Homo sapiens: one gene and its partners. The protein of the gene in region 7 purifies or fractionates together with the protein of the main gene of each other region. This does not show direct contact. Each region holds a gene or a part of one and is shown on either strand. Other genes may lie near its edges.

The links.
Region 1: the proteins of C3AR1 (region 7) and HELLS purify together in Homo sapiens (affinity purification with mass spectrometry; 2 studies listed by BioGRID and IntAct, with this or other methods). This does not show direct contact.
Region 2: the proteins of C3AR1 (region 7) and SLC35F5 purify together in Homo sapiens (affinity purification with mass spectrometry; 2 studies listed by BioGRID and IntAct, with this or other methods). This does not show direct contact.
Region 3: the proteins of C3AR1 (region 7) and RDH14 purify together in Homo sapiens (affinity purification with mass spectrometry; 2 studies listed by BioGRID and IntAct, with this or other methods). This does not show direct contact.
Region 4: the proteins of C3AR1 (region 7) and AGPAT4 purify together in Homo sapiens (affinity purification with mass spectrometry; 2 studies listed by BioGRID and IntAct, with this or other methods). This does not show direct contact.
Region 5: the proteins of C3AR1 (region 7) and VEZT purify together in Homo sapiens (affinity purification with mass spectrometry; 2 studies listed by BioGRID and IntAct, with this or other methods). This does not show direct contact.
Region 6: the proteins of C3AR1 (region 7) and ZDHHC13 purify together in Homo sapiens (affinity purification with mass spectrometry; 2 studies listed by BioGRID and IntAct, with this or other methods). This does not show direct contact.

Annotation. Positions count from the first base shown.
Region 1 is NC_000010.11:94,552,288-94,555,787, forward strand, and holds part of HELLS (lymphoid-specific helicase), read left to right. Parts: intron 1-1,838; coding exon 1,839-1,961; intron 1,962-3,500. UniProt on the Homo sapiens protein: Plays an essential role in normal development and survival. Involved in regulation of the expansion or survival of lymphoid cells. Required for de novo or maintenance DNA methylation. May control silencing of the imprinted CDKN1C gene through DNA methylation.
Region 2 is NC_000002.12:113,750,143-113,753,642, reverse strand, and holds part of SLC35F5 (solute carrier family 35 member F5), read left to right. Parts: intron 1-3,074; coding exon 3,075-3,218; intron 3,219-3,500.
Region 3 is NC_000002.12:18,554,223-18,557,653, forward strand, and holds the end of RDH14 (retinol dehydrogenase 14), read right to left. Parts: intron 1,587-3,431; coding exon 969-1,586; 3' UTR 501-968; downstream 1-500. Other genes in the region: NT5C1B-RDH14 protein, read right to left, coding at 969-1,586. UniProt on the Homo sapiens protein: Retinol dehydrogenase with a clear preference for NADP. Displays high activity towards 9-cis, 11-cis and all-trans-retinol. Shows a very weak activity towards 13-cis-retinol. Has no activity towards steroid.
Region 4 is NC_000006.12:161,138,062-161,141,561, reverse strand, and holds part of AGPAT4 (1-acyl-sn-glycerol-3-phosphate acyltransferase delta), read left to right. Parts: exon of another isoform or gene 1-484; intron 485-1,095; exon of another isoform or gene 1,096-1,941; coding exon 1,942-2,140; intron 2,141-3,500. UniProt on the Homo sapiens protein: Converts 1-acyl-sn-glycerol-3-phosphate (lysophosphatidic acid or LPA) into 1,2-diacyl-sn-glycerol-3-phosphate (phosphatidic acid or PA) by incorporating an acyl moiety at the sn-2 position of the glycerol backbone.
Region 5 is NC_000012.12:95,216,501-95,220,606, reverse strand, and holds the start of VEZT (vezatin), read right to left. Parts: upstream 2,801-4,106; 5' UTR 2,757-2,800; coding exon 2,721-2,756; exon of another isoform or gene 2,262-2,720; intron 1-2,261. Other genes in the region: FGD6 (FYVE, RhoGEF and PH domain-containing protein 6), read left to right, coding at 3,367-3,382. UniProt on the Homo sapiens protein: Plays a pivotal role in the establishment of adherens junctions and their maintenance in adult life.
Region 6 is NC_000011.10:19,120,168-19,123,667, forward strand, and holds part of ZDHHC13 (palmitoyltransferase ZDHHC13), read left to right. Parts: intron 1-3,500. UniProt on the Homo sapiens protein: Palmitoyltransferase that could catalyze the addition of palmitate onto various protein substrates. Palmitoyltransferase for HTT and GAD2. May play a role in Mg(2+) transport.
Region 7 is NC_000012.12:8,056,360-8,059,859, reverse strand, and holds the end of C3AR1 (C3a anaphylatoxin chemotactic receptor), read left to right. Parts: coding exon 1-1,123; 3' UTR 1,124-3,016; downstream 3,017-3,500.

The DNA of each region.
Region 1 (3,500 bases), on a different chromosome or scaffold from region 7:
TAGAATCTTTTTAATTCTAAAGTTAACTTAAGTGTGATTTTTAGTGCTGTTGCTGAGGCCAGTGTTGCTTAAAGCAGGAACTTCTACAGTAATTGACAAAACTTGAGTTTTTCTGCTCTCATTTATCCATCCTTCAGACCCCTCAGATGTCATCTATTTCCTGAAATCTGACTTCTCCAGTTTTAGTAATTCTTACAATTTTTCAGGATTTAGATAGTACTGTACAGTTTACTGCTATGTATATGTCTTTAATACTTGTTGTTTTCAGATATTACACTAATGTCTCATCTGTAGTATAAATCAGACTTTCTGTCTTCTACCAGTTACATAATTTATATAATTGTTGCAGTACATGTTTGTTGATTTACTAGGCTGGATTCATGTTACAGAATTGGTAATCTTGGTTGGGCATGGTGGCACATGCCTGTAATCCCAGTACTTTGGGAGGACAAGGCAGACGAATCTCTTGAGTTTAGGAGTTGGAGACCTGCCTTAGCAATATGGTGAAACCCTGTCTTTACAAAAAAAAAAAATACAAAAAATTAACAGGGCATGGTGGCATCTGCCTAGAGTCCCAGCTACTTGGGAGGCTGAGGTGGGAGGGTGGTTTGAGCCCGGGATTTGGAGGCTGCAGTAAGCCACAATTGCACCAATTACAGCATGAGACCATGCCTTAAAAAACGGGGTGGGGGTGTTAATCTTGGCTAGATGTCTGTTTTGATTGTTAGGATGAATTGTGTTGGTAGTATTTTTCTAAAATGTTCTATCCAAATCAACTTGTTTATTAATCTCAAATAGGGAGAGACTCTGAAAACTTGTCTTAGAATTCTCTAGTGTCACCTAGGCAATCACTTTTTATGAGGGTCAAGTGCAAAATTAATCAAAAATTTTCCTTATCTGTACATAACAAGGTAATATAATAACACGGAACCACAACATCAATGTTTTAGCAAATTACACATACCTTTTTTTTTTTTTCCGGACGGAGTCTCACTCTGTCACCCAGGCTGGAGTGCAGTGGTGCCATCTCAGCTCACTGCAACCTCCGCTTCCCGGGTTTAAGCAATTCTCCTGCCTCAGCCTCCTGAGTAGCTGGGACTACAGGCATGCGCCACCACGTCCTGCTAATTTTTATAGTTTTAGTAGAGATGGGGTTTCACCATTTTGGCCAGGATGGTCTCAAACTCCTGACCTCAGGTGATCCACCCTCCTCGGCCTCCCAAAGTGCTGGGATTACAGGCGTGAGCCACCGTGCCTGGCCCCAATTTTTTTTTTTTTTTTTTTGGTACGGAGTTTTGCTCTTGTTTGGAGTGCAGTGGCATGATCTCGGCTCACTGCAGCCTCTGCCTCCCCCGGGTTCAAGCGATTCTCCTGCCTCAGCCTCCCAAGTAGCTGGGATTACAGGCATGCACCACCACGCCTGGCTAATTTTGTATTTTTAGTAGAGATGGGGTTTCTCCATGTTGGTCCGGCTGGTCTCGAACCCCCGACCTCAGGTGATCCGCCTGCTTTGGCCTCCCAAAGTGCTGGGATTACAGGTGTGAGTCACCGCACCCGGCCTTCAATTGTTTTTTAAATGGACCTTCCAACTCAGTAGTGCCAGAAACCATGTGTTCAATATTTGAAATTATAATATTTTGATATACGAATTGCATCTATCAGATTGCCTGTTAAACCCAAAAACTATTTTTTTTTTAACAGTTATTTGTTCCAGTTTTTGGTTTGAAAGTGTTTGGTTTAAAAAATGTTATTTTAGCCATTTTTATTAAACTTTATGCCAAAAAAATTAAGGTATGTCAGAAAGTGTTCATAATTATGGAAATTTTCTCTTTGGATAGGCTCGCATGTCTTGGGATAGAGAGTCGACAGAAATTCGGTACCGTAGACTTCAACATTTGCTTGAAAAAAGCAATATATACTCCAAATTTTTATTGACGAAAATGGAACAGCAACAATTAGAGGTATGTATATGTAACTGACTACAAGTGAAAGCTTAAAAAAATTTAAAAATAGCTTTATTGAAGTGTATATTATATACAGTAAAATGGACAGATTTTAAGTGTACGGTTTGCTGAGTTTTGACTAGTAAATATATAGATCTGTGTAACCACCAGCACAATCAAGATACAGTGCACTTCCATGAACTCCAAAAAATTGTCTTGTGCTGACAGTAATCCCCATGGCTGGTGTCCAGCAACTACTGATTTGCTTTCTGTCACTATAGACCAGTATTGTTTTTTCCTAGAAAATTGTATAAATGAAATCATGGTATTGTGCTAGTGAGTAAATAGTTGGTCTTCATCACCATTTCCTGGTATACAACTCTTGAAATCCTTGGAATCTTCAAAGTAATAGTGTTTTTTTTTTTGTTTTTTTTTTTTTAATGCTAATGATCAATGGCTAGCTGCCCTTAGGTAGCTTCAGGATGGGAGCCTAAGAAAGACAAAACCTGGATTAGAGGGTTGGGATTTAGCCTCACCCTCAACTTTGAGGAAAAGAGACTGAAAGTTAACTTGTTCACCAGTGGTCACGATTGAATCAATCACGTCTATGTTATGAGGTCTTCATTAAAAACCCAAAAGGGCTGGGTGTGGCTCACATCTGTAATCCCAGCACTTTGGGGAGCCTAGGTGGGTGGATTGCTTGAGCCCAGAAGTTTGAGACCAGGCTGGGTAATATGGCAAAACCCTATCTCTAATAGAAAAATTAGCTAGGTAAGGTGGCATGTGCCTCTAGTCCCAGCTACTTGGGAGGCTGAGGCAGGAGGTTGGCTTGAGCCAAGGAGATTGAGGCTGCAGTGAACTGTGATGGCACCACTGCATTCTAGCCTGGGTGACAGAGCAAGACCCTGTCTCAAAAATAAAACAGGCTGGGCGCAGTGGCTCACGCCTGTAATCCCAGCACTTTGGGAGGCCAAGGCAGACAGATCACTTGAGCCCAGGAGTTCGACACCAGCCTGAGTAACATAGTGAAAACCCGTCTCTACCAAAAATATAAAAATTAGCCGGTCATGGTGGTGTGTGCCTGTAAGCCCAGCTACTCAGAAGGCTGAGGCAGGAGGATCGCTTGAACCCAGGAGGCGGAGGTTGCAGTGAGCCGAGATTGCACCCCTGGACTCCAGCCTGGATGACAGAGTGAGACCCTGCCTCAAAAATAAATAAATAAAAAAAACCCCAAAAGGGGACAGGGTTTGGAGAACTTCTGGATAGCTGAACACATGGAGGTTCCTGGAGAGGATGGCGCATCCAGAAAAGGCATGGAAGCTCTGCGCTTCTTTCTCCATACCTTGTTCTATACATCTCTTTCTCTGGTGTTCCTCTGAATATGTTGTAATCTTTCTTTCTTTCTTTCTTTTTTTTGGAGACAGAGTCTTACTCTGTTGCCCAGGCTGGTGTGCAGTGCACCATCTCAGCTCACTGCAACCTCTGACTCCTGGGTTCAAGCAGCCCTCCCACCTCGGCCTCCCGAGTAGCTGGGACTACAGGAGCACACCATTATGT
Region 2 (3,500 bases), on a different chromosome or scaffold from region 7:
TTTGTCAGTTGTACTTTGATGAAACTGGAGGAAAAAACTCAACTTACCTTAATTTTTTTAAAGTAAAATATTTTAGTAAGAGGATGTTTTACAATCTCATTATTCAAGAATGTATGTAATGTCTCTACTTCTTCAACCAGTTATGCTCATTAAACTTTGGAGATAGGGCCAGGCGCAGTGGCTCACGCCTGAAATCCCAACACTTTGGGAAGATCAGGTGGGCAGATCACCTGAAGTCAGGAGTTCGAGACCAGCCTGGCCAACATGGTGAAACTCAGTCTCTACTAAATACAAAAATTAGCTGGGTGTGGTGGTGGGTGCCTGTAATCCCAGTTACTCTGGAGGCTGAGGCAGGAGAATCGCTTGAACCTGGGAGGCAGAGGTTGCAGTGAGCTGAGATCATGCCATTGCACTCCAGCTTGGGCAACAAGAGTGAAACTCCTTAGCAAAAAAAAAAAAAAAAAAAAAAAAAAAGAAAAACAAACTTTGGAGATAAAGTGTGTATTTCAAAAAGAAAATCAGTCTTTTTATTATGGTTATTTTCTAACATATACAAAGTAGAATATTATAATGAGTCTCCATGTATTCGTTACTTAGCTTTAGCACTTAACCAAATTTGCCAACCTTATCAACCTCTCCTCAAAACTTTTTTTCCTGGAGCATTTTAAAGCATATTTTAAAGCATATGTCACATGCCATTTCACCCACGATTTCTTTCCTATTTACTTTAAACTGAAAAGGACTTTTAATTTTCTTAAACATAATCACTATGCCATTAACATAGTTAACACAATTAACTGTAATTCCTTAAGATCATCTGATATCCAGTCTATGTTCAGTTTTCTCCAGTCCAGTTTTCTCCGGTGGTGTCAAGCACTTTTTTTTCCCATTAAGTTTGTTAGGATCTAAATGAAGATCACGCATTGCATTTGTGGTATCTTTTACTCCTTAACTGTATCTTCCCTCCTTTTTTTTAATACCATAAATTTGTTGGAGAAACTGGGTCATTTTTCCTATTGGATGTATCACACATTCTGGATTTGGCTGATTGTTTCCTTGGGGTATCATTTAACTTGTTATTTTTCTCTTATTTCTTGTAAAGTGGTAGTTAGGTGTAAAGTCTTGATTTAGGTTTAGTTTTCAGGAAAGAATACTTTGGGGTACTGAGTACTTCCTGTAACATTCCAGCATGACATACATAATGACTGCAAGTCTCACTTTAGATGATGCCAATTTAAGTACTATAAAATTCCTCACCAACTTTTAGGTAATAGTTGAATATCCACGTTTAAGTTGTCTAGATAAAGTATTTCATTAGGGGTTGCAAAATGGTGATTTTTTTTTGAGTTATTCCCTCTGTATTTATTAGCTGGAATTCTTTAAGTCTTTTTAATATGGCCTTATTAATCTTTTTTTTTTTTTTTTGAGATGGGACAGAGTTTTGCTCTTGTCACCCAGGCTGGAGTGCAATGGCACTATCTCGGCTCACTGCAATCTCCGCCTCCCAGGTTCAAGCAATTCTCCTGCCTCAGCCTTCTGAGTAGCTGGGATTATAGGCACCTGCCACCACGCCCAGCTAATTTTTGTATTTTTAGTACAGACTGGGTTTCACTGTGTTGGCCAGGCTGGTCTTGAACTCCTGACCTCAAGTGATCCACCCGCCTTGGCCTTCCAAAGTGTTGGGATTACAGGCGTGAGCCACTGTGCCTGACATCTTATTAATCTTTAACATTTTCTTTCCACCACAAGATGCCCTGGGCCCATCTTGTACATTTTCTGCTCCATACCTGGATTTGGCCATTTATTATAGGAGCCATTGTTTCTTTTTTGGGGACAGAGTCTCACGCTGTTGTCCAGTATGGAATGGTGCAGTGGCATGATCTTGGCTCACTATAACCTCTGACTCCTGGGTTCAAGTGATTCTCCTGCCTCAGCCTCCAGAGTACCTGGGATTACAGGCAGGTGCCCCCATGTACTGCAAATTTTTGTATTTTTTGTAGAGACAGGGTTTCGCCATGTTGGCCAGGCTGGGCTTAAACTCCTGACTTCAAGTGATCCACCCGCCTCGGCCTCCCAAAGTGCTGGGATTATAGGTGTGAGCCACTGTGCCTGGCCAGAGCCATTGTTTCTTTTAGTGTAAAATGGCGTGGACCACCATTTACGTCCTAGAGTTGCACTTTCCTCCTGGATTGTCATTTTTTTCTATGCCTTTTTAGTGGATATAACTAGGAATTTTCTTAGGATATAAAAAATTGTGAGTTTATATTCACAATACACTAAAAACAAACAAACAAACAAAAAAACAGTCTCCCTTGGGAAACGTCCATAACCTTGAAATTTGTCAGTCTCCTTTTGGTGCTCCGTGGCATCCTGAACCCGTCTCTTGTTACTTGGCACATGATGCTGTATTCTCTTCATATATATGTCTCCTCTATTAGATGTTAAGCTCCCCAAGGGCAGGATAACTTCCCTTCCTTCTCTTTTGTTTTTCTTTATGAGATAGGGTCTTTGCTCTGTTGCCCAGGCTGGAGTGCAGTGGCTTGACCATGGCTCACTGCAGCCTCAACCTTTGTGAACTCAGGGGATCCTCCCGCTTCAGCCTCCCAAGTAGCTGGGACTGAGGGTGCACGCCACCACCCTGGCTAATTTTTCTATTTTGCTGCAGAGACGGAGTTTTGCCATGTTGCCCAGGCAGGTCTTGAAATTCTGGGCTCAAGCAATCTTCCTGTCTTGGTCTCCCCACGTGCTGGGATTATTGGCTTGGGCCTCCGCGCCTGGCCCTGTCTTACTTTTCTTTAGCTCCTAGTGTAGGCACTGTTTCGTGGTAGGTCCCAACGAATGGTAAACCCAACTTCTTTTAGCAGCTGTTGCTGCTTTGTTTGGTGGTGCCCTTCTGTGTGCAAGGCCGATACAGTCTTCAGAAATGGATCTAAAATACTTTTGTAATCGCTTTGACTTTTTCTTTCCAAGTGAACTTCTGAAGAGTTAAAAATCATGTAGTGACTTTATTTTGGAGATGAGTAATAAGGTTTAAGGTCATCTCAGAGTTGTCTGTGTAACTTTTTCCTCTACAGTATGTTTTTACCCAGTACAACAAACCATTCTTCAGCACCTTTGCAAAAACATCTATGTTTGTTTTGTACCTTTTGGGCTTTATTATTTGGAAGCCATGGAGACAACAGTGTACAAGAGGACTTCGCGGAAAGCATGCTGCTTTTGTAAGTTTTTAATTTTAACTGTCTGTTAGGAAGGGGGTATAGATACGTTTTTTCAAAGTTTAAAGATGTATTAGTTTCTTTAAGGACGGTCATATTTTAAGTTGTTCAGTTAAGTGAGTGAAGATGATATAAGAAAACCGGCTCTTGTCCAAAATTTTAAATTTATTCTTCTAATTAAGTAGTATCAGAATAGTTTGTGAGAACTCTTACTCCATGACATTTTCTGAGTTGTTAAAAATTCTTGAATTAGCCCAAATCAATTAATGTGGCAATGAAGATGAA
Region 3 (3,431 bases), on a different chromosome or scaffold from region 7:
TTCTAGAGTCCATCACATCAGACAACACAGAGTATTCCTTTCCTCACTGCAAAGTTCTACTGAACAGTGCTGAGTATGAGAGTATAGGGTAAGCATGGTGCTGTCTCATGGAGCCTCAACTCTATCTTCAACAGTTTAATCTTTAGTCTAAATAAAAGTGGTTTATAAACCACTATATTCTATGAAATCCCTTTAGGAATTGCCGTGGGGGACTCCACCTTGGCAGCATTGCGATAACCTGCTTTACCCCCTCCAGCTTCTACGTTTCAGTGAAACACCGCTTTTGAAGAAAGAATTCTGCCAAATTTTTTTTTTTTTAAGGCTCAAAACCCACTGTTTTTTAAGCAGGAATGTGATAGATTTGGGTTTTAGGAATATTATCTCTCAGAGCAGTGTACAAGATACGTGGCAAGAAGAGACTGGGCAGACCAAGATCAGCATAGGCTAATGGTGACATGATAAAGGACTGTATTCAGTGAAGCCTCCAAAGAAATGCACAGTTAAGAATTTGTACCAGTAAATTTATTCCAAGTAAGACTTGTGTGCACACACCAGGCAGATAATTTCCACACAAACACCAAACATTGTAGTAAAACTAGTTAACACTTTGGCCATGAAACTCAAAGATACTTGAAAAACCTCTCGATAGCACTTTGAGTCACTTAATTCTGACAAATATTAATATGTCATCCATGCTTGCCCAGTTATAATTTTACAATATAATTGTATTTTTCATTGTACTTATTATTCATTATACTTACTATATATATTTAAAACATCTTTGCTGAAATTCTCTTATCCCAAAAATAATTTTTCAGTAACTCCAAAATACCCACATGTACCTCTTAGCAGGCTATTCCAATATCAAAATTCTTTTTCTTCAAGTAACAAGTTCTCAATCCACACCATTCCTGATCACAGATATAACTGATATGCAGTTTTATAAACAGCTCTTTTACTCCTTGTTCCTATTTTAGCAGGCCAACCATCACTTCACTGATATCCCAGAGTTTTCTTGCAACAGATTCATCCATAGCTTTGGGCAACAGTTCTTCCTCTTTACAATCCCCAAAGTATCTTCCTGACACTCCTTCTACCTCAGGTGAAGAGGCCAAATAAATGGAAGTCTGGGCACCTTCTACTGGAGTTTTGAAAAAAGCCCATGACACCAAATTGAAGAGTGGTTTGACCAACAGTGGAATGTGTATGTGCCTCCCCAGATTTGTCCGTACAATACCAGGATGCAACACATTGACGGTGACATTTGTGCCTTCTAAGCGGCGGGCTAGTTCCCTGGTAAAAAGAATGTTAGCCAGTTTGCTCCGGCTATAACAAAAGCTTTTATTATAGCTTTGTTCACTGTTCAAGTCATCAAAATTGATGTCTCCGTATTTATAAAGTTTGGAAGAAACTACCACAATCCTGCTGGGAGCTGAACTTTTGAGGAGTCCAAGGAGAAGATTGGTGAGTAGAAAGTGCCCCAGATGGTTCACTCCGAACTGCATCTCAAACCCATCTTCAGTCTTCATGTAAGGGCACTGGAAGATCCCTGCGTTATTGATCAAGACATCCAGCCTAGGCTCTTCCTTTAAATGTCAAAAAGAGAATGGCAGAATTATTAAGAACACACGCCTTGTATTGCTTTTTCTGTTCATGATAATTACATTTTAATAAAAATGGGCACTTGAGACTAAAAGCATTTAATTTCAGTTGTTGGTCTATCGATCAGAGAACTACTTGAAACACTGGCAATTTTGTGTTTAATAAATGGGGAAAGGGATTCCTCCGCAGGATGTTCCTCAGATAAATACTGATGTTCATGATCTTTCATTCAACAGCTCTTTTTTCTCATTTATTAAAATGATATACAGAAAGATATTTATCTACAGTCATCTTCCAATAAAAGATGTAGAAACTAAATCTAAGACTTAATTTCTGGTTTTATGCTTTTATAACAATAACATTTACAAATATATAAACTTTAACATTGCATTAGAAAGTTGACTACGTGATCAGTACCAAGATCTTTCTCAAAACAGAAATACAGTCAATTTGAGGACAAGGCACTCCTACAATCCCATATTTCTCCCTTTAATTTCAGTTGAACTAGGAAAATATCAATTTGGGAGTTATCAGGTTAATACTGAGATCATATCAAAATTATAAGTGTACCTATGATAAAATGTTTAAAAATACTTGCAAACTACTAAAATTCTATCCCAAAATGCTTCTATGAGCTTCCAATAATTGAGAGAAAAATAGAAAAAAAAATAGATGCAGAAGCTTGATAGGAGCCAGGCTTTGTGCTTTTCGCATGTCACCACATCTAATTCCAACAACTGTATAAGCAAATGAAGCTCACAGGCTAGGTGACTTGCCCAGTATCAGAACTCCTAAGTAGCAAAATAAGATCAGATCTGAAGATGAAGTCTTTGACACCAAGGCCTATTTTCTTAATTAGTAAGCTGGCATGGCTTTCTAATTGGGATTTTCAAAACAGCTAGAGAGGCAATGAAAGCTAGACAGACCATATGCTGTAGAAAACAGGTAAGCATAGTTTATTCCCAGAGCTACTGGTTATCAACACCAAGGGCAAACTTATGGTTGCTTTATTCTGTAGTTCTCTCAGGGTAAATGGCACCATGGGGGTGGAACAACTTCAAGTCATTTCCTTAAAAGTGAAACAAGCAATAGAAAAGGTCAGAAATGCAAACTTAACACTGGAGAGAACATCATGAATAAATCGAGATTCATAAAGAATAATCAAAGATTAAGAAAAAAATAATCAGGTAATATAAAAATATCCAGCGTAAAGGGGACTCTAGGAGATCTGTACAGTCAACATTTTATACTCTGAACTTATGCTTCTGTATCTTTCCAAATTAAAGTCCTAAAATTTAGACTGTTCTCATAGGGAAGTCTTTTTATTCCTTAAATCATGTAAGATGGTCTTCTCTAGCCTTTTCTCGGTTGTTCTGTTTCTTTTGATGGACAAAGAAATGCACATGTTCCAAGTGTAAAGACACTGTGATGACCCATGATTAATATGAGGTCAACTTTCAAATTTCACTGGCCCTTCTGCCAACTATAAGTGAAAAGAAAAATGTGTTACATTTCACAACTGTTATCGAAGCCCACCTGTCAGAGGATTAACTATTTCTCATTCTGCCCTGTCTAAGCATCTTTGGGTTTTCCAATAGTCAACTTCAAAAAGAAGGCAAGAGTTCACTCATGGGGGAAAGAAAGGAGTATTCTTTTTCACAAATCCTTTGGAAGATTTTCCTGAATTAATCATTTGTTATCCAGCATTCTTTGCTGGGCTTGTGTTATTTTAAAATTTTGTCATTTACTATTTTTTTAAATTCTACGAGATAAATGAAATAAATACCAAGAATACCAACCTGTGGGAAATCTACATTTCCATTTTTTTT
Region 4 (3,500 bases), on a different chromosome or scaffold from region 7:
CCCCCTTGTCTAGTTATCAGGTGCCCTGTGGCCCCAACCTGGGATAAGAAAATCACCCCGTTCTGGTGGGCAGGCGAATGCCGCTGCTTCCCTGGCAGAGTTGGGTGCCACCTCTCTGGGCATTGCCTGTGCTGCTGACCGTCATGGTGCTCACCTCCTTGTCTCCTCCACCATCTGATCGCTCTCACTGCTTGAGGGTAGGAGTGCTTGGCACACACGTTGATTGTTCTTCAGTTGCTTGATGATGTGACTTCCCCTGAGAGCCCCCATGGCTTCTCTTGGCTGATGTCCAACAGCAGAGTCACGCGACAAGTGACGCTTCGGACCAGGCTTGTTAATGGGCTGCAGGGGGCCGAGGACAGAGCAGAGGCACCTGAACTGCCCAGGGAAGGGGTTGGGGGTTCTCCTTCCAAAATGGCCTAGTGTGTGGACTATTATTAAAAGTGCCTCTGAGAGGCCAAGAAAGCCTATGATTCAGTACACCCTGAATGAAAAAGAAGAAAAGTATGAGATACTTTAGACTTTTCTATCTCAAGTTGTTAAAGGAAAATATTCAGCATTTAAGTAGTATAAGTTTCAATTATAAGGAAGCTCATTTTCCAGAAAACTCGACTCCTTAGAGAACTGGGACATTACTAGGCTAGTTCATGGGACACAAACTGGGCCTCACTGTGACCCACACCCATTTTTGTGTGGCGTGCATGCTATCGGCCACGTGCAGCTTTTACAATAGCTGAGGCAGCTGCCCACCATACAACCTGGGCAATTCCCTGTGGCTGCCTGGTTCAGCTCTGCTCCCTGCAGGCAGCTTCTGCCCTGGCCCCTCCTCACGGCCAGGACCTGCCCTTAGACGGGCCAGCGGGCATCCTGGTGCCACAGCTCCTTGTTCCCCCCAGGTCCTGGCTCAGCTCAGCTCCCAGCCGCTTGAGCACGCCTGCTGACCTGGGTTCCTGGGTCCCTCCCTTGTGTTCAGCAGCTCCTTGCGGCTGAGCCCCAGTCCCTGAGCGGGAGCTCCGTGACATGAGACACCCAGGGAAGAGCCACCGCGTTCTTTCGCAGTGCATTTATGTGGGGCCGTGAGTCCCCTGTTCTCACCCAGGGACTGCAAGGAGCGCCATGAGGCTCTGGAGTAACTGCCCTGCAAGCTGCTCGGTGACACACACACCCTGTGGGTGGATGTGGATGAGTACATGGTTCCCACTAAGGATCTGCTTAGTGGAAGGACATGAGCCTGTTTGTTTACCTTTCACACGGTCTAACAATCACTTAGAAGAGTCACCCTGGACACCCAGTCCTGAGTGTGCTGTCACCTCTGAGAGCCACACCCAGCAGCCCTCCAGCCCTTTGTCATTCATGATGCCTTGAATCACGGCCCTCAGAGCCCTCCAGTGGCAAACAGGGTGGTAGGTGCGGGTGGGCTGCCCGAGGTGAACTGGCTGTGGAGGCCGGGAAGGCGGGGCATGTGCCGGGCCGGGCTGGGCGAGCTCCTCCTGACTGCGGGCCAGGTCTCCACCGAGTGTCCCCTGCGGGCAGCTTCGGCGCAGCATCCACTCCATTCTCCCGCCGACCTATCGTGGAAGGCACTGCTGCCCCATTAGACAGACTGGGGCCTGGGCTCAGGGATGCAGGTGCCTGCCCACAGAGGGTGGATCCTAGCCCAGGCTGGCCTGGCGCCAGGGTTCATGCTCCACGCCCTGCACTCAGTGACAGCTGCAGCGGCCCCACCACTCCCAGTGTCCCTGTGGGAGGGGCGGCCAGATGCAGCTTTGAGAAGACAGCAGCTGCCTACAAAGTGCTTTCTGGAAGGAGCTGCAGACCCCAGTTCTGCCGAGCCCCGGTGGCACCTGTGTATCTCTGCGATTCCCTTGGAAGCAGGGCCTCGGGAGGGACCTGCCACCGAGCCCCGTGTGGCGTCTGAGGGTCCTCTTTCCTGTCCCCCAGGATGCCTTTCAGGAGGAGTACTACAGGACGGGCACCTTCCCAGAGACGCCCATGGTGCCCCCCCGGCGGCCCTGGACCCTCGTGAACTGGCTGTTTTGGGCCTCGCTGGTGCTCTACCCTTTCTTCCAGTTCCTGGTCAGCATGATCAGGAGCGGGTCTTCCCTGACGCTGGCCAGCTTCATCCTCGTCTTCTTTGTGGGTGAGTGGAGGGCAAGGGGCTGGTGGGTGCTGACAGCACCACCCTGGGAGAGGTGGCATCAGGGCTGGGACGAAGGCCATCTGTATAGGCAGTTGTGCCGTGGATGAGGAGCAGGCTCAGCTTGCAATCACAGGGAAAGATTAGACTTCAGGATGAGTGCGAGGCCCTCGAATACCAGGCCTGGGACCCCCTCCGCAGCCTGGACGGTCCAGCCTCCCACCTGGGGCTGGATTCCACACGTTCCCTGTTGGGTGGTGATGCAGCTGCCACTTCACTCCCCGACAGCTGGGAGTGCTCCCTCCCTGTCCTCCGCAGACAGCTCTGCTCATTGGCATCATTTCCTGCTTCTGAAGAAAGCCCTGTGCTGGAGCCTGGCGGGGACGGATGGGCAGCTCCCTGCCTTCCTCTGGGGGCGCCTGTGGCTTCTCCTTTGCTGCAGGTGGATGACACTGAGTGGAGACACTCGGCGACAGAGCTTTTCATGGGTCTGCGCTGGCTCCAGGTGACCGGTATTCTCGGGCTACTGCTGCTTCTTGGTGGCAAGCCCCTGTGCACCCTGCTCCTTGCCTCTGGCGGGGCAGCCTGTCGTGCCTGCTTCCTGCCCTGTGAACAGCAGGTCCGTGCTTCCTGGAGCCAAGGAAGACTTTGGGGTTTCCCTGTGAAAGGCCCTGTCTCCCCAAGCCTGGCGTCCTCTGAGGCTTTGGAGAGCCCGGGAGAGACGGCACATTGTCCAAGCACACAGAGATCACGTGCTTCTTCCAAATGGACAGGACTCAGTTATTTTCTGTCAAACACAAAGATGCAGTATGCTCACTATAAAAGGCCCAAGCAATAGACAAGCGCAGAAAATGGAAAGTGTGTCAGGAGACCATTCCCATTGAGCCCACTTCCCAGATAATCGTTAATGACAATTTGATGCACGTGGTGGTTCCAGTCTCAAGCATATGTGCATCTATAAACCCGTATCAGTGGAGTTTCTTCAGCTCGCCTTTTCACCTAATGAATCATAACCACCAAAACAGGTCACAGCACATAAACCTAGCTCATTCATTCTGACTGAGCCAACCAATGCTGCAGCATATGGGTGCAGTAGACAAGCTGGCTCCTGTTCCTCAAATAGACCCTACTATACAGTCTTTTGAAAGATTAAGATGTATTTTAGTGTTAAAAATTAAAATATTAAAACAACACCCACACCGTGTAAGGGAAAAAAATAAGAGGTTGGAGAAGAAAGCACCTCATCTCCTTAAGGCAGGTCCAGGGGCACCCCCATGCCCCGCCATGCTGAGGCTGGCCAAGGGTCCGGGGCAGCTGCAGGTGCCAGGGCCCCTGGTAGGGCGGGGGCAAGCTCAACCCTTCT
Region 5 (4,106 bases), about 87 Mb from region 7:
AGTGTCTAAACAATAAAAATAGACAAAATTAATCTAGGTTATTATGTTTAAATAGTGATCATTTTGGGGTAGGGAGTAGTGATGGAAAGGACCAGGAGGGAGCTTCTGGTGTGCTGGTGATGTTGTTTCTTTTTTCATTTTTTATTTTTTTGGGGCAGAGTCTGGCTCTGTCATCCAGGCTGGAGTACAGCGGTGCGATCATGGCTCACTGCAGCCTTGACCTACCCAGGCTCAAGTGATTCTCCCACCTCAGCCTCCCGAGTAGCTGGGACTATAGGCATGTGCCACCACGCCCAAATAATTTTTGTCTTTTTTGTAGAGATAGGGTTTCACCATGTTGTCCAGGCTAATCTCAAACTCCTGGGTTCAAGGGATCCATCTGCCTCAGCCTCCCAAAGTGCTGAGATTACAGGTGTGAGCCACCATGCCCCATCTGTCCCGTTTCTTGATCTGGGTGCTGGTTACATGGGTGTGCTCAACATGTGAAAATATAACCATCCACACACTTGTGATCTGTGCCCTGTCCTTATGTAAATTATACTGCAATAAAAATTGTGTATATCAAAGAGCAAACAAACAGCAAACTGGAAATTTTTCTGCAAGTATGACAAAGGCTTAGTAATATATGAAGAACTCACGCAAGTCAATTTTTTTAAAGCTAGCATCTAATAAGAAAATGAGCAACAAATATGAAGAGAAATGTTCAAAGAAATAAAAATAGCTAATAAATGTATAAATGCATAAAATGTAAATTAAAACAATGGAATGTTATTTTTGCCTATCAAATTAGCAAAGATTAAAGGAAACTGTTAAGGCTGTTGTTGAGGATTTGGTGAAACCAATACTCTCTTATTCTTAATGGAAACCGGAATTGGTATAACCTTTCTGCGTAAGTCTTAAATGTTCATATTCTTTCACCCACTAGTTCTACTTCTAAAAATTATTCTGAGGAAAATCAGAGTTGTAGTTAAAAATAGGCTTATATCACTGTTGATTACAATGGTATTTTTTTAAAAAAAGGTTATATTATGATACACGTGAGGGGATATTATAATATTAATGTTTTCAGAGAATGATGAATGGGAAAAGATTCACGATAAAGTCAAGTGAAAAATATATACAAAATTCTACGTGGTATACCTTTTGTTTTAAAAAATATCACACACACATTGTGTCTTAATATAGAGGCTAAAAAATTACACACACATAAACACACATTTACATAGAAATAAAGTCTATAAGAACACATACCGTACTGTTAATAGTTACCATCTTTGGGTGGTGGGATAATGGATGATTTTAACTTGGGGGCTTATTTTCTACAATAAAATGTTCCTTGAGCATATATTACTATTATATTCAGAAATCAAAAATAATGGGTAAAAAAAATACACCCATCAGTTACCCTTACTCTAGAAAATATTTCTCTCTCCTTCAGCTACCACATTCAATCTATAAACATTGCCTCGATTTTAACTTACAAGTGTCTGTCCAAGCCATTATTCCATTACGTCTCTCATTTCATCTCAGGCCCTTGTCTTCCCTAATGAACGCCTCATATCTAGACTCTTCACTTCGGTAAAATGGCCACATTTTCCACTGCTTCTTCATTGCAGCCACATCAAGCCACTTTACATAGCCACCCTCCACACCCCGCCCCCTAAAAATGCACACCAGGTACTTTCACACTTCCCAAGCTTGGCATAATCAGTTCTCTTTCCCTGTAATACATTTTCTCCTGCCGGTTTTTCTAATCCAATTCATAGTTAAAGATTCACCTCGGATATCGCGTACTGGGTGTAGCCTCTGGGAGGCCGCAAGAACAGAAATTAATCCTTCAATGACAGTTTGTACATATTTCAACATTTAGCATTCTGTCCTGTCTGTGCCTCGCTCTCTCGCTGTATGGCATGGGCCACTTCATTTTTAAATTTTCTTAAAATCTAGTTGGATAAATGAAAGTAAAGCGTATACATGCAATACACATACGTACAGGGGTGCGAGTTTTGACCTGTGTCTGATGGAAAAAAATGGCATCAAAAACACTCGCCCGATTTTTTTCATTCAAGATGGCAGAGAACGTCTTAAAATAGTCCCACACAAAAGCACTCACATCTAGAGCCCCGAGTCAGAAGAACTGGCTACACCTAGCGCAACAGCAAAGGACAAAAGAATCGAATCTAGATGCTGAGATGCCCTGGCCCTAACTACCCACAGTAGGTCCCACAAATAGACTTTAAACCGTGTTAGAAAACGGGCACCTGCTGCCTTCATTCCGAGGGCCACGCCTTGACGGTGAACAGTGACCTGAAGCACTCTGGATACTGACCCAAAAAAATCGCGGATGGAAAAGGAGGAGGCTAAGTTGTGACTATCTAAAAGGCACGATTCGGCCCCGCCCCAGCCGGGCGCAGTCCCCCCCGCCGCACATCCATTCCCAGGAAGGAAGAGACACCGCTCCAGCCCAGAGCCTGGCAACCGGGCACCGTCTGGGAATTCTGGGCGGGCCCGAGATAGAGGCCGGCCACGGCCAGGGCGCCTCTGGCTACACCTGTCAGGCGACGACGGACTCTAGGCCCTGAAATCGCTGGGGTTCGGTGGTCGAGGCCAGCTGGAGCGCGTCACCCGATCCCTCGCCCCGGGAACGCCTTGCTTCCTCGATTTCCGTCTCGTCCTTCTCAAACAAAGGCAATCCACACCCACCGCCATTTTCCTCTTACCTCAAAAACCACCTCTTCGTCAAACTCCGGTGTCATCCTTCTCCGCCATGCCACCCGCCTCAGCACGATGGGAAATGAAGGCGGGAGTACAGGCGGCACGGAGCTCCAGCTCCTGCCCGTCCCGTGGGTCCAGAAAACTACAATTCCCAATATGCCTCGCCGCTCACGCCCCCTTTTCGAGCCCGCTTATTGGAGAAGAGAGTGAGCGTGTAAGCGAGAGAGGCGGGAGCGAGCTGAAGCTCGAGCCCTCCGATTGGAGGAGGCTAGGGCTTTTGTCTGCCTTTTACGGCCGCGACTAGCAGGGGGCGCCCGGAGCACTGCTGATTTTTGGAGCCCGAGAAGGGCACGCGCCAGCGGAGCCGAAGAGAGCACTGCTCGTGCCCGCGCCTGGCTGTCAGCCTGCCGCTCTGCGGGGCGGTGCTAGTGCTCGCCCGCCCGACCCCGGCGGCTCGCGCCCGGGAGCGCCGCAGGGTCGCTAGAGTCGGCCGCGTCCTTTGTGTGGCGCTCAGGCTGCGCCGCGGGGCGGCGGGACGGAATGTGGGCGCTGCGGGGGCTTTTCTCTCCTACCCGAACTGTGGGAACAATGGACTGAAAGGGGAAGATGGATTGAGGGGCCGAGCGGGGAAGCGAGCTGCACCGGGGAATCATGACTTCTGCAGCCGGTAAGTGACGGCGCTCGCGCTGCCGCGGGAAAGTTTGTGGCGAGCGCTGCTAGGCTTGGGCTCGCGAGCAACTTTCTTCGCCGGGGTGGGCGAGTTGTGTGCCCCGTACCTTTGCCGAGCACCTCGGCAAGCGCGGAGCTAATGGGATTCGCTGCCGGCTTTCTCGTCTTTTCCTGCCCAGAGGGGCTGTTTGGAAACCCGGGATTTCTCGGGATCTCCCTTCCAAGGGGGACTGTGCTGGGGGCTCTGCACCAGGTGAAATGCGATGTGTGAAGGGCGTTCGCTCATCTCTCCAGCAGTGCGAGGACTTCGCCTTTGCATGTGAAAATAGTGTAGATTCCCAAGTTAATAGATCAGTTATTATAGGTAAAGGCAGTGTTCTCAGCGTGTTCAATTTGGCCACTAAGTGAGTCGCTTTCAACCTTGTATCTGCTGGTAAACCTTTTACCCATTTTAAAGAGGCGTAGACATTGTCATGTCCTGGTGGTTTTACCTCTGTTACCTGAGAAGCAGAGGAGTTGAGATTGTTGAGGTTTTTTTTTTTTTTTTTTTTTTGCTTGTCTGCACCCAATTACAATTATTTTGTTTGTTTCTACCTGATTAGGGTAAACAAAGCTTTATTTTCTGTCTGCCTCCCATAGTTCTTTCCCCTTCATCCAAATGACAAAGCCTCTATCTTTGTGTGGATTTTCAGCAATTCTAGACGTTGTGTTTCTGAACATTC
Region 6 (3,500 bases), on a different chromosome or scaffold from region 7:
CAAAACATAGTGGTATAAAACATGGCTTTGTCATGCTCATGGACTCTGTGTGTCAGGGACTTGGAGAGACTGCAGCAGGGTTGGTTTGTTTCTGTTCCACCATGTCTAGAGCCTCAGCTGCAAAGACTCATAAGCTGGAGATGAATTGAGAGCTGGGGCCAGTATCTATGAGTGTCTTCACTTACATCTGGCAGTTAACTTTCAGTAGAGACACCTACACGTGACCTGGGCCTCTGCACAGTATAGTGGCTGAGTTCCATTAGTGACCATCTAATGAAAGAGCCAGGAAGAAGAAGCTGCCAGTTTCTAGGGCCTGAGCCTGCAAACTGGCACAGCATCACTTCTGAAATATATTATTTGTGAGGTAGTCACAAAGCTCAGAGTCAAGAGGAAGGGACATAGACCTTTACCTCTTGATGGAGAAGTAGCAAATAATTTTGAGGCTATGTTGTAAAAATTACCACACATGTATTCATATGTCTGTTAGATAATTTTCATAATATCTTGTTCTGCTTTTCACTCTTCTGTGGAGGACAGTGAGCTAGCTACATATTTCTTTCTTGGTATCTCTCTTTTTTCCCTCTTTAAATTTTTTTTCCCTTTGTATCTTAATTAAAACAAAAACAACAAAAAAACCATTTTATTCTAGTATCTTGAGGTGGTTGTAGACTGGAATCCTAGGAAGACGAGAGGAAGTAAAATGGAATAGAATCATAGAATACTTGGAGCTGGAAGGCTTTTCAGTGAATTACCTAGTTGAGAGATTCTTAAACTGGCATATAGGATAAGCTTCAGGGCGTTAGTGAACATCTTGAAATTAGTGAACATCTTGAAAAGTTAGTTTACATGTGCAGTTGTGCATTTCTCTTAAGTAGAGAGGCCTTAATTTTGGTAACATTTTCAAAAAGGTCCATGACATTTGGAAGGTTTGAGAACCATTTATCTAGTCTAGCCCTTTAACTTTTCCCATGAATTCAAGACGCAAAAATAATAACTTACTTTCCAAAGGTTCATGGCAAGTTAGCAGAGCCCAGGTGTCAGGGCTCCTGATGCAGTGCATTTTCATTGCTAGTCAGGTGGTCCAGTCATGATACGATCTTGTTTGATTGTTTGCTGCCACTTGGAGTCCACCCATTCTTTAGGTCAAGGTCTGAGGAGTAGTCTGTATTTTACTCTGCTCTGAAAATGGGGAAGGGAGTATATCCCTAACTAGAATATAAGTTCCTTGAAAACCAAGGACCTTGTCTGTTGTTCATTGCCATGTTGCTGTGTCTACAATAGTGCCCAGCACGTAGTAGGCATTCAGTAAATGTCTAGAATGAATGTATTATGGAAGGAACTGTGTCTTATTCATCTTTTATCCCTGATTACCTACTTCTGTGATTTGTATAGGTGTTCTTTATATTTCCCTGAATGAATAATTGATGAAAACTCTTGGGAGTTGGCTGGCATCATGAGAATTTGCTTAGTCTGTTCTGTTACCTTAACATTGTAGGCAGCCATGTAGCAGTTAAGCTTCTTTATCCATGTAGTGTGTTTGTTCATACAGTAAATTCTTTACCAGTTCACAAGTCAATAGTGACTATTGTAATAGCTCACCTTAGGACCATGCAACATGAGACTTAGAAGGAGCTTTATGGGTGTATTGATATGTCCCTTTCACTTTACCAACGTAGAAATGAGCCAAAAATAGAGTAGATGATTCACCACTATCATACAGTCAATGTGGCAGTACCAGGAATTTGGTTATTTGGCCCGTGTCATCAGTGCAATCAGGAGAGATTAGGCTGAGAGAATACTGTGGAAGCAGGGACTCAATGTGTCTTCTTCCCTATCTTTTGAGACTCAAGGTTACCTGTCTTCTTCTCTGTTGTGTCCTTGCCCTCCTTTTCCTGACCTTGCTTCACAGAAAACTTCACAGAAAATAAAAATTTCAGCTCTCTTCTGTTTGAACATGGGGATAGGAGCTGGCGGCCAATTTCATATTGTCGTGGGTCATGTTATTGTAGGATTTGACATGTATTTCTAAATTATATTCATTAACTAATAGCTCAGTATATGTTCATGGCAAGATTTGAATTAAAGATGGTGGTTATAAATCTGCCTCAATTTAGCCTCTTGACAATTTTGAATTTTTTCCAAGGGGGTACTGACTTGTCAGATTGGATTAGATCATCTTTGTTTATACTTCATGTGTCTGATAAAGAGTTCCTGATCTGCTATTTTCTTATTTGCTTGTGCTTATTATTATTATTATTATTACCTCAATTCATGGCTTCTTTGTAGAAATCAGCTTAAGCTACTTGCTCATTTTGGGAGAGGTAATTTAGTTAAAATTTAACAATATAATTTGAAAATAATCTAATATATATTGTAAAATGCTGAAGGTCCTACTGTCAACTCTCTGTTTGTGGAAGCTTTCTCTGCCCTTAGGTTACCTTGTAAACAGAGTATAAGGAGTGACCTGCTTGGCATATCAATAAATGAGACTGCCATCGTTAAAAATTAGTAAAGCTTTCCTGCCAGCAGAGGTGTGCTAAAAAGAAAAAATAAATTTGGTAAAGCTTTAAAAACTCAAATTTGTAAATTTTATTTTTCCTTTTTAAGTAAAAAGATAAAAAATTATTATAATAGAAGCTTTAACATTTTCTCACATTACCTAGTGGGTCACTGCATATATGGCTTTGAGTGTACTTTCCTCACTTTGTAGATGATTGACTTCAAACACAAGCTTTGAATATAGTCATTTTTAGGTTTTACTTTGATCTGCATGCGGGTAAACAATGATGACATGAACGGAAGATATCTTCTGTTTTCTAGTTTCTTAAAGTTGCCATTTAATCATATATAATCACATATTGCCTGCTATTATTATTTCACTCTGTCTCTGACATATCTCCCTTATTAGACTTAAATTCCTGGAGGATAGACACCCATGTCTTATATGCCCTTAGCGTAATTGTACATCATAAATACACAGTAATTAATTGCCGACTAAACAAATATTCTCAATTGTGGATATTCTTCACATTAAAACATGTAAACCTCCTCAACTTTATACATGAAAAATAAAGCTGATGTCCTTAATGCCTTAAAATAGTATAAGAAGCAACAAATTTGTATCTAGAATGAGTCAGTTTTCTGTGATGAAAAATCTGTGTATAAACAAAGGGTCAGGGTGGGGTGTGGTGGCTCATGCCTGTAACCCTAGTGCTTTGGGAGGCCAAGACGGAAGGATAACTTGAGGTCAGGAGTTTAAGACCAGTCTGGGCAACATAACGAGACCAGTCTGGGCAACATAACGAGACCTATCTACAGAAGAATAAAAAAATCAGCAGGGTGTGGTAGTGCTTGCTTATAGTCCTACCTACTACGGTGGGTCAGGTGGTAGAATCACTTGAGCCCAGCAGATAGGGCTGTAGTGAGATTTGATGGTGCCACTGCACTCCAGCCTGGGTGACGGAGTAATACCCCATCTCAAAAACAAAACAAAAAAGGCT
Region 7 (3,500 bases):
TGTCTTCCTGCTTACTGCCATTAGCCTGGATCGCTGTCTTGTGGTATTCAAGCCAATCTGGTGTCAGAATCATCGCAATGTAGGGATGGCCTGCTCTATCTGTGGATGTATCTGGGTGGTGGCTTTTGTGATGTGCATTCCTGTGTTCGTGTACCGGGAAATCTTCACTACAGACAACCATAATAGATGTGGCTACAAATTTGGTCTCTCCAGCTCATTAGATTATCCAGACTTTTATGGAGATCCACTAGAAAACAGGTCTCTTGAAAACATTGTTCAGCCGCCTGGAGAAATGAATGATAGGTTAGATCCTTCCTCTTTCCAAACAAATGATCATCCTTGGACAGTCCCCACTGTCTTCCAACCTCAAACATTTCAAAGACCTTCTGCAGATTCACTCCCTAGGGGTTCTGCTAGGTTAACAAGTCAAAATCTGTATTCTAATGTATTTAAACCTGCTGATGTGGTCTCACCTAAAATCCCCAGTGGGTTTCCTATTGAAGATCACGAAACCAGCCCACTGGATAACTCTGATGCTTTTCTCTCTACTCATTTAAAGCTGTTCCCTAGCGCTTCTAGCAATTCCTTCTACGAGTCTGAGCTACCACAAGGTTTCCAGGATTATTACAATTTAGGCCAATTCACAGATGACGATCAAGTGCCAACACCCCTCGTGGCAATAACGATCACTAGGCTAGTGGTGGGTTTCCTGCTGCCCTCTGTTATCATGATAGCCTGTTACAGCTTCATTGTCTTCCGAATGCAAAGGGGCCGCTTCGCCAAGTCTCAGAGCAAAACCTTTCGAGTGGCCGTGGTGGTGGTGGCTGTCTTTCTTGTCTGCTGGACTCCATACCACATTTTTGGAGTCCTGTCATTGCTTACTGACCCAGAAACTCCCTTGGGGAAAACTCTGATGTCCTGGGATCATGTATGCATTGCTCTAGCATCTGCCAATAGTTGCTTTAATCCCTTCCTTTATGCCCTCTTGGGGAAAGATTTTAGGAAGAAAGCAAGGCAGTCCATTCAGGGAATTCTGGAGGCAGCCTTCAGTGAGGAGCTCACACGTTCCACCCACTGTCCCTCAAACAATGTCATTTCAGAAAGAAATAGTACAACTGTGTGAAAATGTGGAGCAGCCAACAAGCAGGGGCTCTTAGGCAATCACATAGTGAAAGTTTATAAGAGGATGAAGTGATATGGTGAGCAGCGGACTTCAAAAACTGTCAAAGAATCAATCCAGCGGTTCTCAAACGGTACACAGACTATTGACATCAGCATCACCTAGAAACTTGTTAGAAATGCAAATTCTCAAGCCGCATCCCAGACTTGCTGAATCGGAATCTCTGGGGGTTGGGACCCAGCAAGGGCACTTAACAAACCCTCGTTTCTGATTAATGCTAAATGTAAGAATCATTGTAAACATTAGTTCTATTTCTATCCCAAACTAAGCTATGTGAAATAAGAGAAGCTACTTTGTTTTTAAATGATGTTGAATATTTGTCGATATTTCCATCATTAAATTTTTCCTTAGCATTGTCTAAGTCTTCCAGATTCCATTTAAAACCATTTCTTGTTCTCCTACGTGAGTGAAAGATGATCATATATCCTAATGCTTTGTTGTCGTGTGGTGTTGATGGTTTTAAACGAAAAGAAAGTGCAAAAAGAAAATGCCTGTGAAGACAAGAAGCCATGAGACTGAGTCTGGAGCATAGGGTTATGCAATGATGCCTGTCCCTGGGAACACCCCTGGGTACAGGATATAGAAATTTCCACTATTACATAGAGTTTCCACTATTACAACTAAATAAGCATCTATTGTGTGAAAACTGACTCATGAAATGTTATGAAAGCTGTGGTTTGGGGAGTTCTGTTTCTTCTAACTGCCTACCGGTTGGGCACCTATTTTCCACTCCTCTTCCTAAGCTCCTTAATTTCCTTATTACTCCCCAGCCTCCAAATCTTCCACATCAGACTTTGTGCCTCAAACAACCTCTAATTTCGTAAGATTCTAGTTACTCCCTTCCTCTTGCTCCAAATGAATACTTTCTAAGAAAGTATTTCAAGTGGAAGGAGAAAGAGGGTGGAGGATGGAGCAGCAATTCTTCTACTCTCTGCAACTGAGTACCCTACCAGGCTTGCCATCACATTTTAAAACATGACGACAGGCAACTTACATGCCAAAATTACCAAATATATCTTCTGGGTTTTTTAAATCCTTTTCTTTGCCAAAGTAATACATGCACATAGTTTTAAAATAATTTAATAAGGTATATAATGAAATATGAGGTCTCCTACCTCACTGTGCCCAAAAGTTCCCTCCTCCCACTCTCATTTCCCAGAGATAATCCTTGCACAATTTTAGATGTTTCCTTTGATAATTATCATGATGTTTCTAAATCATGTGCTTATGCTGCTCTTTTCTGGAGGCATGATAAAACGACTTCTTGTTTTGAAAGATGAAGATGTTTATCCAAGCACCCCATATTTTTAATTTGTTTATCCAGCATCCCAACATTCATTAATAACCATATTTTAATTCATTCATGACCACATATTTTTCTTCTACTTTGTCTATACACTCCAACCATTTATATAGCTTTCCTTCTGTCCCTTTTTCATTTAAAACAAAATTACCTAACTCCCTACCACCTTCTCATTTTTCTGTATATATAAATGTTTGTGTCAAACGTCTGAAATTTCTGGCTTGTTTGTATCACAACGTGGCCTCATCTAAACCAAATACAATGATGTAGTCTAAAAACAGAAAATGACATGTGTTTTAGACCTGCAAGACACTATCTGTTCAATGGCTGAGGTGAGGGTCTGGACTACAGATTTTTTATAAAGTATATGCAGAAAAATTACAAATCACTAGGAATTCTTTCAGTTGTGAAGAATGTCTGACATAAGATTTGAAGTGCTACCTTTCCAGCTTATATATTAATTTGCTTATATATTTGATATGAATAAATGCTTTTTTTCTCATGGGTCCTTGCGAGGCTCAGAGATTTATGAATCCTTTTGTTTCACATTCAGAATATATCACATCTCTAAATATGCAGCAAATAAGTCTCCTAGTGAGTGACTATAGACTTGCTATAATAGCAATTAGCCAGGCTTCCAGAAACCCCAGCACATCCCATAAGACCCTGGGAATAAGACCTAAACTCCTGGGGTTAGTGTATAGGATATCAAGGTGAATAATCTTGACGCAGTTATAAAGATTTAATGTACAACGAGTAATCAGCATTTCTGGACTCCTTTTCTTTTCCATTTGCTTTGGAAATGTATTCTGAAGAAATTCCTACAATTAGAGCTCCCTCATTTCTGATGAAAACCTGGTGAGTACCTGTAACTATTTTGTACTGTATCTTCTCCAGGAAGTCCCAGATGGGAACACAGCTCCTGTCCAAAGTATAATATCTTTTCTTTTTTTTTTTGAGATGAAGTATCACTCTGTAGCCCAGGCTAGAGCACAGTGGCACACTTGGCACGATCTC